2 separate regions of the Homo sapiens genome follow, and region 1 is linked to region 2. Evidence: fine-mapped expression QTL. A gene starts in region 2. The other region holds a variant in brackets. All regions are shown on one strand. Distances are from middle to middle. Region 1 overlaps CCNY (cyclin Y). Region 2 holds the start of CCNY-AS1 (CCNY antisense RNA 1).

Region 1 (5,375 bases), 71 kb after region 2:
TGTTAGGATGGCCGTCAATACCCACAACAGTTATGGAGGCAAGGGAAACAGGCCCTTGAAAATAAGGTAATGTGGAGTGAGTAGTCTCCTTATTGATTAAGAAGGGGACGGATTTACCTTCCACTGTAAGAGTTACCCAAAGCTTGGCATCCGTGATGGTCCAGGGGGCTTCCGAGGCTATCTAAAGGTGAAAGTATCCAAACATGCCCAGGAAGGAAAGGAGTTGTTGTTTTGTGGAAGGGGTTGGGGTTTGGGAGATTAGTTGGACACAATCAGCAGGGAGAACACGTATGTTTTAATGAAGAAATATGTCAAGATAGGTAATGGATGAGGAAGAAATTTGGGCTTGACTGAAGTAGTAGGGGCTGTCCACGAAGCCTTGCAGCAGTACAGCCCAGGTAATTTGCTGAGCCTGATGGGTATCAGGGTCAGTCCAAGTGAAAGCGAAGAGAGGCTGGTATGAAGGGTGCAAAGGAATAGTAAAGAAAGCATGTTTGAGATCCAGAACAGAATAATGAGTTATGGAGGGGTTGTGGAGGGAGGTATTGAGGATAGGAGAGTATATGACTTTGGCACCACTGGGTGGATAGGCAAGACAATTTAGTTGATAAGGTGCAGATCCTGAACTAACCTGTAAAAGCCTTGTCTGGTTTTTGGACAGGTAAAACAGGGGAATTGTAAGGAGAGTTTACAGGCTTTAAAAGGCCATGCTGTAACAGGCAAGTGACAACAGGTTTTAATCCTTTTAAAGCATGCTGTGGGATGGGATATTGGCATTGAGCAGGATAAGGGTGATTAGGTTTTAATGGGATGGTAAAGGGTGCATCATTTGTTGTCAAGGAGGGAGTAGAGGTGTCCTATGCTTGTGGACTAAGAAGGGGAGATACAAGGAGAGGATGTGAAGGAGGCTTTGAACTGGGGCAAAAGGTGGCAGTGAGGTACAGCTGTAGCCCAGGAATAATCAGGGAAGCAGATAATGTAGTTAAAAGTCTCGACCTAATAAGGGAGCCGGGCAGGTGGGGATAACTAAAAAGGAGTGCATAAAAGAATATTGTCCAAGTTGGCACCAGAATTGGGGAGTTTTAAGGGGTTTAGAAGCCTGGCCGTCAATACCCACAACAGTTATGGAGGCAAGGGAAACAGGCCCTTGAAAATAAGGTAATGTGGAGTGAGTAGCCTCCATAATGATTAAGAAGGGGACGGATTTACCCTCCACTGTAAGAGTTACCCGAAGCTTGGCCTCCATCATGGTCCAGGGGGCTTCCGAGGCTATTGGGCAGTGTCAGTCTTCAGCCACTAAGCCGAGAAGATCTGGGAAGGAGTCAATCAGAGCCTTGGGCCAGTTGGACAGTCCAGTTTCCAGTGGGGTCCTGCACAGATGGGACACGGTTTAGGAGGAATCCCGGGCTGCGGGCATTCCTTGGCCCAGTGGCCAGATTTCCGGCACTTGAAGCAAGATCCTGGGGGAGGAAGTTCTAGAGGAACCCCTGGCAACTGTGGTTCAGGCGTTTGGAGTTCTTGTGTGCTGGAGATGTGGCTGGGGTTTGTCTCACAGTGGAGGCAAGGAATTGCACCTCAGAAATACATTGCTACTTGGCTGCCATTACTCTATTACTGTACACCTTGAAAGCGAGGTTAATTAAGTCCTGTTGTGGGGTTTGAGGGCCAGAGTCTAATTTTTGGAGCTTTTTCTTTTTTTTTTTCTTTTTTATTTTATTTATTTATTTATTTATTTATTTATTTATTTATTTATTTTTTTATTGATCATTCTTGGGTGTTTCTTGTAGAGGGGGATTTGGCAGGGTCACAGGACAATAGTGGAGGGAAGGTCAGCAGACAAACAAGTGAACAAAGGTCTCTGGTTTTCCTAGGCAGAGGACCCTGTGGCCTTCCGCAGTGTTTGTGTCCCTGGGCACTTGAGACTAGGGAGTGGTGATGACTCTCAACGAGCATGCTGCCTTCAAGCGTCTGTTTAACAAAGCACATCTTGCACCGCCCTTAATCCATTTAACCCTGAGTGGACACAGCACATGTTTCAGAGAGCACAGGGTTGGGGGTAAGGTCACAGATCAACAGGATCCCAAGGCAGAAGAACTTTTCTTAGTACAGAACAAAATGAAAAGTCTCCCATGTCTACCTCTTTCTACACAGACACGGCAACCATCCGATTTCTCAGTCTTTTCCCCACCTTTCCCCCCTTTCTATTCCACAAAACTGCCACTGTCATCATGGCCTGTTCTCAATGAGCTGTTGGGCGCACCTCCCAGACGGGGTGGTGGCCGGGCAGAGGGGCTCCTCACTTCCCAGTAGGGGCGGCCAGGCAGAGGCGCCCCTCACCTCCCGGATGGGGCGGCTGGCCGGGCGGGGGGCTGACCCCCCCCCACCTCCGTCCCCGTCGGGGCGGCCGGCCAGGCAGAGGGGCTTTTTGGAGCTTTTTCTAATGTCGGGAGCGGATTGGGTAATAAAATGCATATTGAAAATAAGGCAGCCTTCTGGCCCCTCTGGGTCTAGGGTGGTAAAGCGTCTAAGGGTTGTTGTCAAACAGGCCTTGAATTGGGTTGAGTTTTTGTATTTGATGAAAAAGAACCTAAATGCTAACTGATTTGGGAGAGGTCAGATAAAGAAAAAAGGAGCATTAACCTTGATTATGCCTTTAGCTCCAGCCACCTCTTTAAGAGGAAATTGTTGGGCAGGTCGGGGAGGGCTAGTCATGGAACGAAACTGTAA[A/G]CCAGACTGGGTGTGGGGAAGGGAGGTGATAGAAGGATTATAGGGTGGGGAAGCAGAGGCTGAGGAAGAATTGGGACCTGGCTTGGCCTGGCAAGGAGCAGCCTGGGGAGGAGGGGAGAGAGGTCAGATGGGTCCCTAGAAAAGGAAGATTCAAAAGACTCAGAGACGCTTGGGGTTAGGACTGAAGGAACAGACAGGAGAGAAAGAAGAAAGATTTGGGACGACTCTCATTGGGAGCAGAGACTAGGGAGGGACCAGTGTGTAAAAGAATGCCTGGACATCAGGCACCTCAGACCGTTTGCCCATTTTACGACAAGAATTATTTAGATCTTGTAGGATGGAAAAATCGAAAGTGCCGTTTTCTGGCTATTTGGAACCACTGTCGAGTTTGTATTGGGGTCAAGCGGCATTGCAGAAGAAAATAAGACGCTTAGATTTTAGGTCAGGTGAGAGTTGAAGAGGTTTTAAGTTCTTGAGAACACAGGCTAAGGGAGAAGAAGGAGGAGTGGAGGGTGGAAGGTTGCCCATAGTGAAGGAGGCAAGTTTAAAGAGAAGGGTAGAGACACGGAGAAGGGGGGTGGGGAGCAGCCAAAGCAGGCGTCTCCGCACTTGACTTGCCACCAAGGGAATGTGGATGAATGACCAAGGCAGACGTCCCCACGGAGATCAGACACCAGTGGAACGTGGGTGAATAATCAGAGAGGCGTCCTCGCAATGATTAAACACCAAGGGAAGTCTGCCTTCCCGAGTCCGTGACTGGCGCTGGAGTTTTGGGTCAATGGATAAAATATGTCTCCTTTGTCTCCACCAGAAAATGAAAGGAGTTGAAATTAAGAGAAGGGAGAGATTGAAGGGTGGCGCCAAGATTAAAAGGAGAAAGAGGTTGAGGGATAGTGAGAGAGGTTGGAGAAGAGAGTAAAAAGAGGCTGCTTACCTGATCTAAAATTGGGGAGATGTTCCTTGGGCTGGTTAGTCTGAGGACCTGAGGTCATAGGTGGATCTCTTCACGGAGTGAGGGTGAGGACAGGGGACTGGTCTCCCGAAGGAGTCCCGCTGACCTGGGTCTTCGGCACCAAATGTCTCACATGTGCATGTGAAGAGACCACAAAACAGGCTTTGTGTGAGCAACAAGGCTGTTTATTTCACCTGGGTGCCGGCAGGCTGAGTCAGAAAAGAGAGTCAGCAAAGGGTGGTGGGATTATCATTAGTTCTTACAGGTTTTGGGATAGGCAGTGGAGTTAAGAGCAATGTTTTGGGGGCAGGGGGTGGATCTCGCACATTCTCAAGGGCGGGGAGAATTACAAAGAACCTTCTTAAGGGTGGGGGAGATTATGAAGAACCTTCTTAAGGGTGGGGGAGATTACAAAGTATATTGATCAGTTAGGGTAGGGCAGAAACAAATCACAATGGTAGAATATCATCAGTTAAGGCTCTTTTCACTTCTTTTGTGGATCTTTAGTTGCTTCAGGCCATCTGGATGTATACGTGCAGGTCACTGGGAATATGATGGCTTAGCTTGGGCTCAGAGGCCTGACAGTAATATGATGGGTTGAGGGAAAGTTATCAGAAGAGAAAAAGAACAAAAAAATTTCTAGCTTTACTGGAGAATGTTGAAGATGGGGTAAGCAGAGGTTTACGCTAGAAATGGATTCAAGTAGACAAACTGTATTATTTCATCATAAATGCCTCTACTTTGTTCTTTCCTCCCATTACCCTGCTCAATTCTTGTTTTTGTTTTTTTTTTTTCATTCTAGTTATGAAGAAAAACAAAAAGAGTTATTTTGTCTTGACCCAATGCAAAGATGAAAGCAGAAATCAGATTTACCCTATGTAATAGCTTATTACTGGGCAAAGAAATGAAGTACATTAAGGAGGCCTTTTTTTTCCTCCAATGGCTGTTAGATTGTGTATTGCAACCAGGAGTTGTCAAGCTCCTGATCCTAATCCAAGCTGGGGACTGTGGTACAGTGTGGCCAGCTGCCTTGCCAGCTGCCTTACCAGGCAGGTCTCGCATCTGCCATTGTCATCCCATTGGAATCAAGTTGCAAGCCAGTGAACTTGCTGGGGTGTGCCCAGGTCAGAACAGTTACAGCTTAAAAGCCTTTGCTGCCCTTTTTCAGATCCTGTTCCTGGGAGAGTCTCCCACACTAAGTTCAGTGTGGGTACCAGCTGTGGTGAGGGTGTGCTGCCACTGCAGCTGCTGTCTGGGCATCTGTGTTAGGGCCAATACTTCAAGAAGTGTGAGTCATTGTGAAGTGACTGTAGGCAGCTGGGAAATAACAGCTGTGAACAGAAAAAAGACTGGAGGCGTGCTCTCTGGAGGTCTGGGCATAGTGATGAGAGGCTGAGGAACAGAGAGGGAAAAGAAAAATGCAATTCTAAAATTAAAAAGAAAACCTTAATTTAAACCGTGATTTACAGATAATTCCCATGTGTGAGAGACAGTATAGGAAACACTCCAAAGAGCTTGCGTTAAAACAAAAATAAGTAAAAATGTAAAGATTTCCTGCCCCTATGTGAAAAAAGCAATCTGTGATTGTTTTGTTTTATTTTGTTGAGACAGGGTCTTGCTTTGTTGCCCAGGCTGGAGTGCAGTAGCATGATCACGGCACACTGCAGCCATGAACTCCTAGGCTCAAGCAGTCCTC
Region 2 (5,375 bases):
CTGTTCTGCAATTTTTCCCAAAGTGTCACTGTGTGTCAGGCAGGGAGTATCTGCCTGGAGGAGTTTGAAGTATGCATGTAGGGTGGATGAGTTGTGGGGGTCGGCACCCAGGTAAATCACTAGCGAGGCTTTAGTACCCGTCTTTTCTCTCCAGGATTCTTGACCAAAAGTTACACTCTAAATTAAAGTCCAAACAGGTACATACCTAAGGGGAATATGGTGGAAATGTCAAAGAGGAGATAGGGAAAGAGGGGGAGGGGGGCGGGGCACAAAAATCCTGGCAGACCAGAGGCTGTACCACCCTTTGTTAAGGGTATGTGGCTACACTGATCTCTCATCCTCCAGATGCTCTTCCCAGTTAACACTGCCCAGTGACCTTCTTGGACAGGAAGCATGCAGCCAGCCATGCTGTCACCTTAGTGCCACTGTCTCTTTCTCCTCTTAAGCCCTTCAAACCATAATTTGAATGTAAATGTTATACATTTTATAATGAAATAAAAATAGCTTAATGCATCTGAGTAGATATGCCACACACCTATGGTCCAATGACTGGATGCTGACTTTCATATGTGGCCCAAATTACAAAGCAGCAATCAGAACAGACAACAACAGACAACAAGGGAACTTCTCTCCCACGGGTTCAGCAATCTGACCCAAACTCCATAGCCCCAGACAATCTGAATACACACATGCAAGTGTAAATATGCCCCAGTTTTCCCAGGAAGCAGGAAAATCTACACAGCCTCAATGAAGAGCACTATTTTGGACTGTTGTTGTCTACCCACCCTCTCCAGGGCTTTAATTCTTTAGAACTTCCCTTTTACACTTCTTTTCTCATCTGGTCAGCATTACCACTTTGCAGCCACTTATTTTCCATGGACATCTGCCACTTATCCTAACAAATAGCATTAATACAGTTGAGAGCATGGAGCGTTTAAAATATGGACTAATAAATGTATAAACAGTACTTTGAGAGGGAGGGAAAGCACAGGTTAAAAAATGGCTAGATGTAGAGAATTAAATGAAATGTTTATAAAGCCGTTCACACGATGTCCACACATTGCTGATGCTAGATAAATATCAAGTCCCTTATTCCTTCTCTTACCTTTTAGTAACTGGATTTGTCACGAACAGGTACTGAGGTCTGCATAAATCAAGGCATGATTTCATCTCTGGGCCTCAGTTTCCTCATATATAAAATTAAGACAGTTGTACTATTGTACTAGTTTTTTTTTCAAGAACTAGTTCAAAAACATTCCCAGCTCCCACCCCCACCCCCCCACCCCACAAGACTCTCCTCAAGACTCCTTCAGTAAATATTTGGAAAAAGGGTGGGAAGTTTGTTTCTGCCACCTTATATTCTTCCCAATAAAGGCAAGAAAAGTCAGGGATGGCTGGCATTGTGGGCGTCGGGAGGGAATGCGAACCAACATTTACTCTACTTCTCTCCCAGCCAGGCATGTTCACATACCTTGATCTTAGTCAACTGGCCTAAGTTAACTTGTTCCCAACATGACAAAACCCGATGGCATTCTAAAAGCAAAGCAAAGCAAAGCAAGGGCAGTCGATGAGTTGTGTTAACTTAGTTTTCTATCTCATGTTAACCTCCAAGGAACTCAAAACAACTCCACAGCGAATTCAATATTAAAATAGCTCTGGGACCCCAAGATTTATTTCACAGCTTAAAGCAAGGTCACTATCAAGTCCTCGGCAAAGCTCAAAATACAATAGAAAACTCCCAAATCAAGCCCCAGCTTATTTAAATGCTTAGAAAAAAAAAATAGCCAGGTGCCGTGGCTCATGCCCGTAATCCCATGGGAGGAGTCCAGACGGGAGGATTCCTTGAAGACAGGAGTTCGATACCAGCCCGGGTTACGAAGCGAGATCCCATCTCTACAAAAAGTTAACACACACACACACACACATTCACCACCTTAGCCTGGCTTAGTGGCGGGCGCCCGTGTTACAAAGGGAGATCCCATCTCTACAAAAAGTTAACACACATACACACCCTACCTTAGCCTGGCGTAGTGGCGGGAGCCTGTAGTCCTCGCTACTTTGGAGACACACACACACACACACACCCGTAGTCCTCGCTACTTTGGAGACACACACACACACACACACACACACACCTTAGCCAGGCGTGGTGGCGCGCGCCTGTAGTACCGGCTACTTTGGAGGCTGAGGCGGGAGAATCGCTTCAGCCTAGGAGTTCGAGGCTGCAGTGAGCCGAGATTGCGCCACTGCCCTCCAGCCTGGGCGACAGAGCGAAATCATACCTCTAAAAAAATAAATTAGAAAAATAAAAAGACAAAAAGAGCCAGCCCGGTTTCGGAGAGGCAGGTGCAGCCTCAGCGCCCTGGGCCTGCGTCCCCGACCGGGCCCTGGCTGCGCTCCCGCCCGCTGCGGGCCCCGGGGACGCACCTCGCATCCCGCGCTGGGCCCCGTTCCGTCCAGCCCGGGGGAGTGGAGGAGGCAGAGGCCGGGTGGGGAAGGGCCTCCAGAAACCGAGCTCCCGACGACGTCTCCCGCGACCCCAGTGCCCGAGAGAGGAGCGGCCCCCGGGAGCGATCCCACAACCGCGCGGGGCTGCGCCGCCCCGAACCTCCCCGCGGCCGCCGATCTGCTTCCAGGGCAGAGGGAAGGGGCGGTGACGGGGCGGGGCGGGGGCTGCGGCGAGGGCGGGCGCCGCTGGCGAGGGAGGGCCGCCAGCATCCTCCCTGGCCGCGCCGCACCGCGCCGCGAGGAGTCCGGGGGCTGCGCCCACGCCCGCTGCCCGCCCGCTCGTCGGCTAGTCCCGCCGTCCGGCGCGGACACGCGTGCCCCCGGCTTGAACCGGAACCTCTTGCCGAGGCGGCCGCCGTCGCCGCAGCCGCCGGGGAAGCGGACACCAACTGGGGAAGCGCGGGGGGGAGGCGGCCTGCGCGGCGCCGCCCGCCATGGCCGCGGCGGGGTGAGGTAGGCGCGGCGGCCGCAGTCGCGCGGACCCGAGCGCTCCTCCGCCGCGGATAGGCCGGCCGAGGGGGAGCCGGGGCCGTCGCCCGCTCGTCGCCGCCGCCGCCGCCGCCGCCCATGGCGAGGCCCCGCCGCCGCCGCCGCTGCTGACCCGGCGGCCGGCCGCCGTTCCGCCCCCTCCCGTGGCGGCGAGCGGGCGGGCCTCCCCACACGCCCCCGCCGCCCGCGCCCCGCGTCCACCCGCGCCCCGCTCCCGGGGACTGGGAGAACAGGATAGCAGCAGGAGTCGGGGGGCCGCCGAAGATGGGGAACACTACCTCGTGCTGCGTGTCGTCCAGTCCCAAGCTCCGGAGGAATGCCCACTCCCGGCTGGAGTCCTACCGGCCAGACACGGACCTGAGCCGCGAGGACACGGGCTGCAACCTGCAGCACATCAGCGACCGGGAGAACATAGACGGTGAGTGCGGCCCGCCGAGCCCCCTACCCGCCCCCGCGGCAACAGTCGCACAGCCAACGTCGGGGCGGCCCGGCTGCTCTTGCTTGCCCAGCCGGTCTCGGCGACCCGTGCATAACCGGGGCTTCGCCCGCGCAGCCTAGGCGCCCGGGGCCCCGCAGCCTCTGGGCGTACCCCTCGCTGGTTACCCCCAAGTGAGCGGCCGCGGAAACTTTGCAGGCCCGCGGCATCGAGCACGGCGGGCCTAGGGCGGGTGTGTGCGCGTGGGTCGCGAGGTGACAGGAGCCGGCCCTCGTCCTTAATGGAGCGGCCAGAGCTGGGTGGGGGCGGCCCGGGAGCTCGGGGTTCCCGGCACTACCTGAATGCAGCCCGAAGCCAAGTTGTGCACGCGTTTGTCCTATAAAAGCGAAGTGAGTGGATTCCCATTTTGGAATCCCGGTGTCTCCAACCTCGAGTTGGAGAACCATGTTGAGTCAGTTCCCCGGAACCTTACAAATGGACTCCACTTCCCCCGTTCCCATTCTACCGTTTTTTTTAAAAAATGATTTTTTTGAGTGGCGGTTCCAGGATTAGTCAAATAGCTTCTCCCGAGAATGCTCTTTAAAAGATTGTCAGACACCTTTGGGTTAAGTCTCAGTTTTTGCATGGGCCCGAATTGCAGTCCTATGAATTTCTGATTTATTCAGGTGACTTTTGGTTGGTCTGGAGTTTGCAAAAAGAAAAAAAGCTAAGACTAATTACTGCACGCAGTAATGTTTTATTTATTTTATTGGTTTGGCAACATATTTATTAGCACTGTTGCTCAGTGATAACGACAGAGGGATATTTATGCATCATGCTTAAAATATAGTTTATAGAATTTTCAACTGAAAAGATTTGAAATTGGAAGTATCTTTTTATGACAAGGTGATTTTTTTAACCCAAACATCTTCTCATAGTTAATCTGGTTGAACTAATATGAAGAAATTTTTGTGTGAATGAATGAACACAACTTCATAATTCGTTCCTGTCCACTTTAGGATGGAAGATTCTCTCCACTGTGGAAAGGCCACATTTAAACTTTGCTAAAGGAAAGATTTTTCTCGTTTGTCTTCGTGTAATTTCTTCTAAATGGTAGTTTAATCTTTTTAGGAGAGCATCTTTATTAAATGAGTGCCATGTATAAAGGGAGTAACACAACGTCTGGTTTCTAGTACGCGCTTAGTAAATTATGGTTCCATATGACGTGTCTAGTGTTGTTATTTTAGATTTCCATTATTTTAAACATACGCTTAGATGTCTTTGAACTACAGCCATACTTTCTTCTTAAATTTATGCATTTAAAGGCATCTAGAAGGATGAAGGCCAGATCGGTCTTGATCACTTTCACAGCCTCTAGCACCTGAAAGAAAAGTCTAGCATATAATAAACAGTAAGTATTGTACTTTAAAGGGAGGAATAAATGAATGAGTTTATTACAGAAAGCCATTACCCAGTCCTATACTATGTTGACAGGCGAAAACATTTGGAAATAATGTCTTCTTTATGATGTGCAGTAAATTTCCTTTTTATGTTGTGCAGTATCTAGCGGAGGCTTTGTTTTGAATGATGGATCAAAAAAGAAAAAAAAGAAGATTTACATTTCTTAGAGCCAGGCTGCATACAGTTATTATAGACTATTGTAAGGAAATAAGGTGGAAAAAATAAGTGTAACCAGGTATTTGGCACTAAGGCTCAGTACAATTTTGCCAGAGTACAGTGAAATGATATTGTGTGTTCTTTCATTTCAAAGAAATCTTAAGTTTCAGTCATCAGGAATTTTTGAGAGAATGTTTGGAAGACTCTTTTGCAGATTCAGGATAGTTTGAGAGAGTATAGGGCAGGTTTCCAATCTAGGCTGTGGAGTGCCCTCTCATCCCAGATCCCAGTTCATATGATTATGCTAGTTTAAACCCCGAAATATTAATTCACCTTCTGTCTCTCA

What was found. PIP is the estimated chance that this variant, and not a neighbour inherited with it, causes the effect. A credible set is the group of variants that fine-mapping cannot tell apart.
Region 1: its variant is the best candidate, but not a certain one, in a credible set for the expression of CCNY-AS1 in thyroid (GTEx, PIP 0.70).

The regions. Positions count from the first base shown.
Region 1 is chr10:35,404,490-35,409,864 of GRCh38, forward strand. All of the region lies in intron 1 of CCNY (cyclin Y), which reads left to right. Among named protein-coding and RNA genes, the nearest start is that of CCNY, 71 kb to the left of the region's middle. The variant A/G (reference allele first, on the strand shown) is at 2,728.
Region 2 is chr10:35,333,793-35,339,167 of GRCh38, forward strand. It overlaps CCNY-AS1 (CCNY antisense RNA 1), which reads right to left and starts at 2,632. Exons shown (of 4, transcript NR_186477.1): 1 at 2,428-2,632; 2 at 2,136-2,284. It overlaps CCNY (cyclin Y), which reads left to right and starts at 2,717. Exons shown (of 10, transcript NM_145012.6): 1 at 2,717-3,415. The coding sequence starts at 3,262. RefSeq lists a silencer at 2,343-3,082.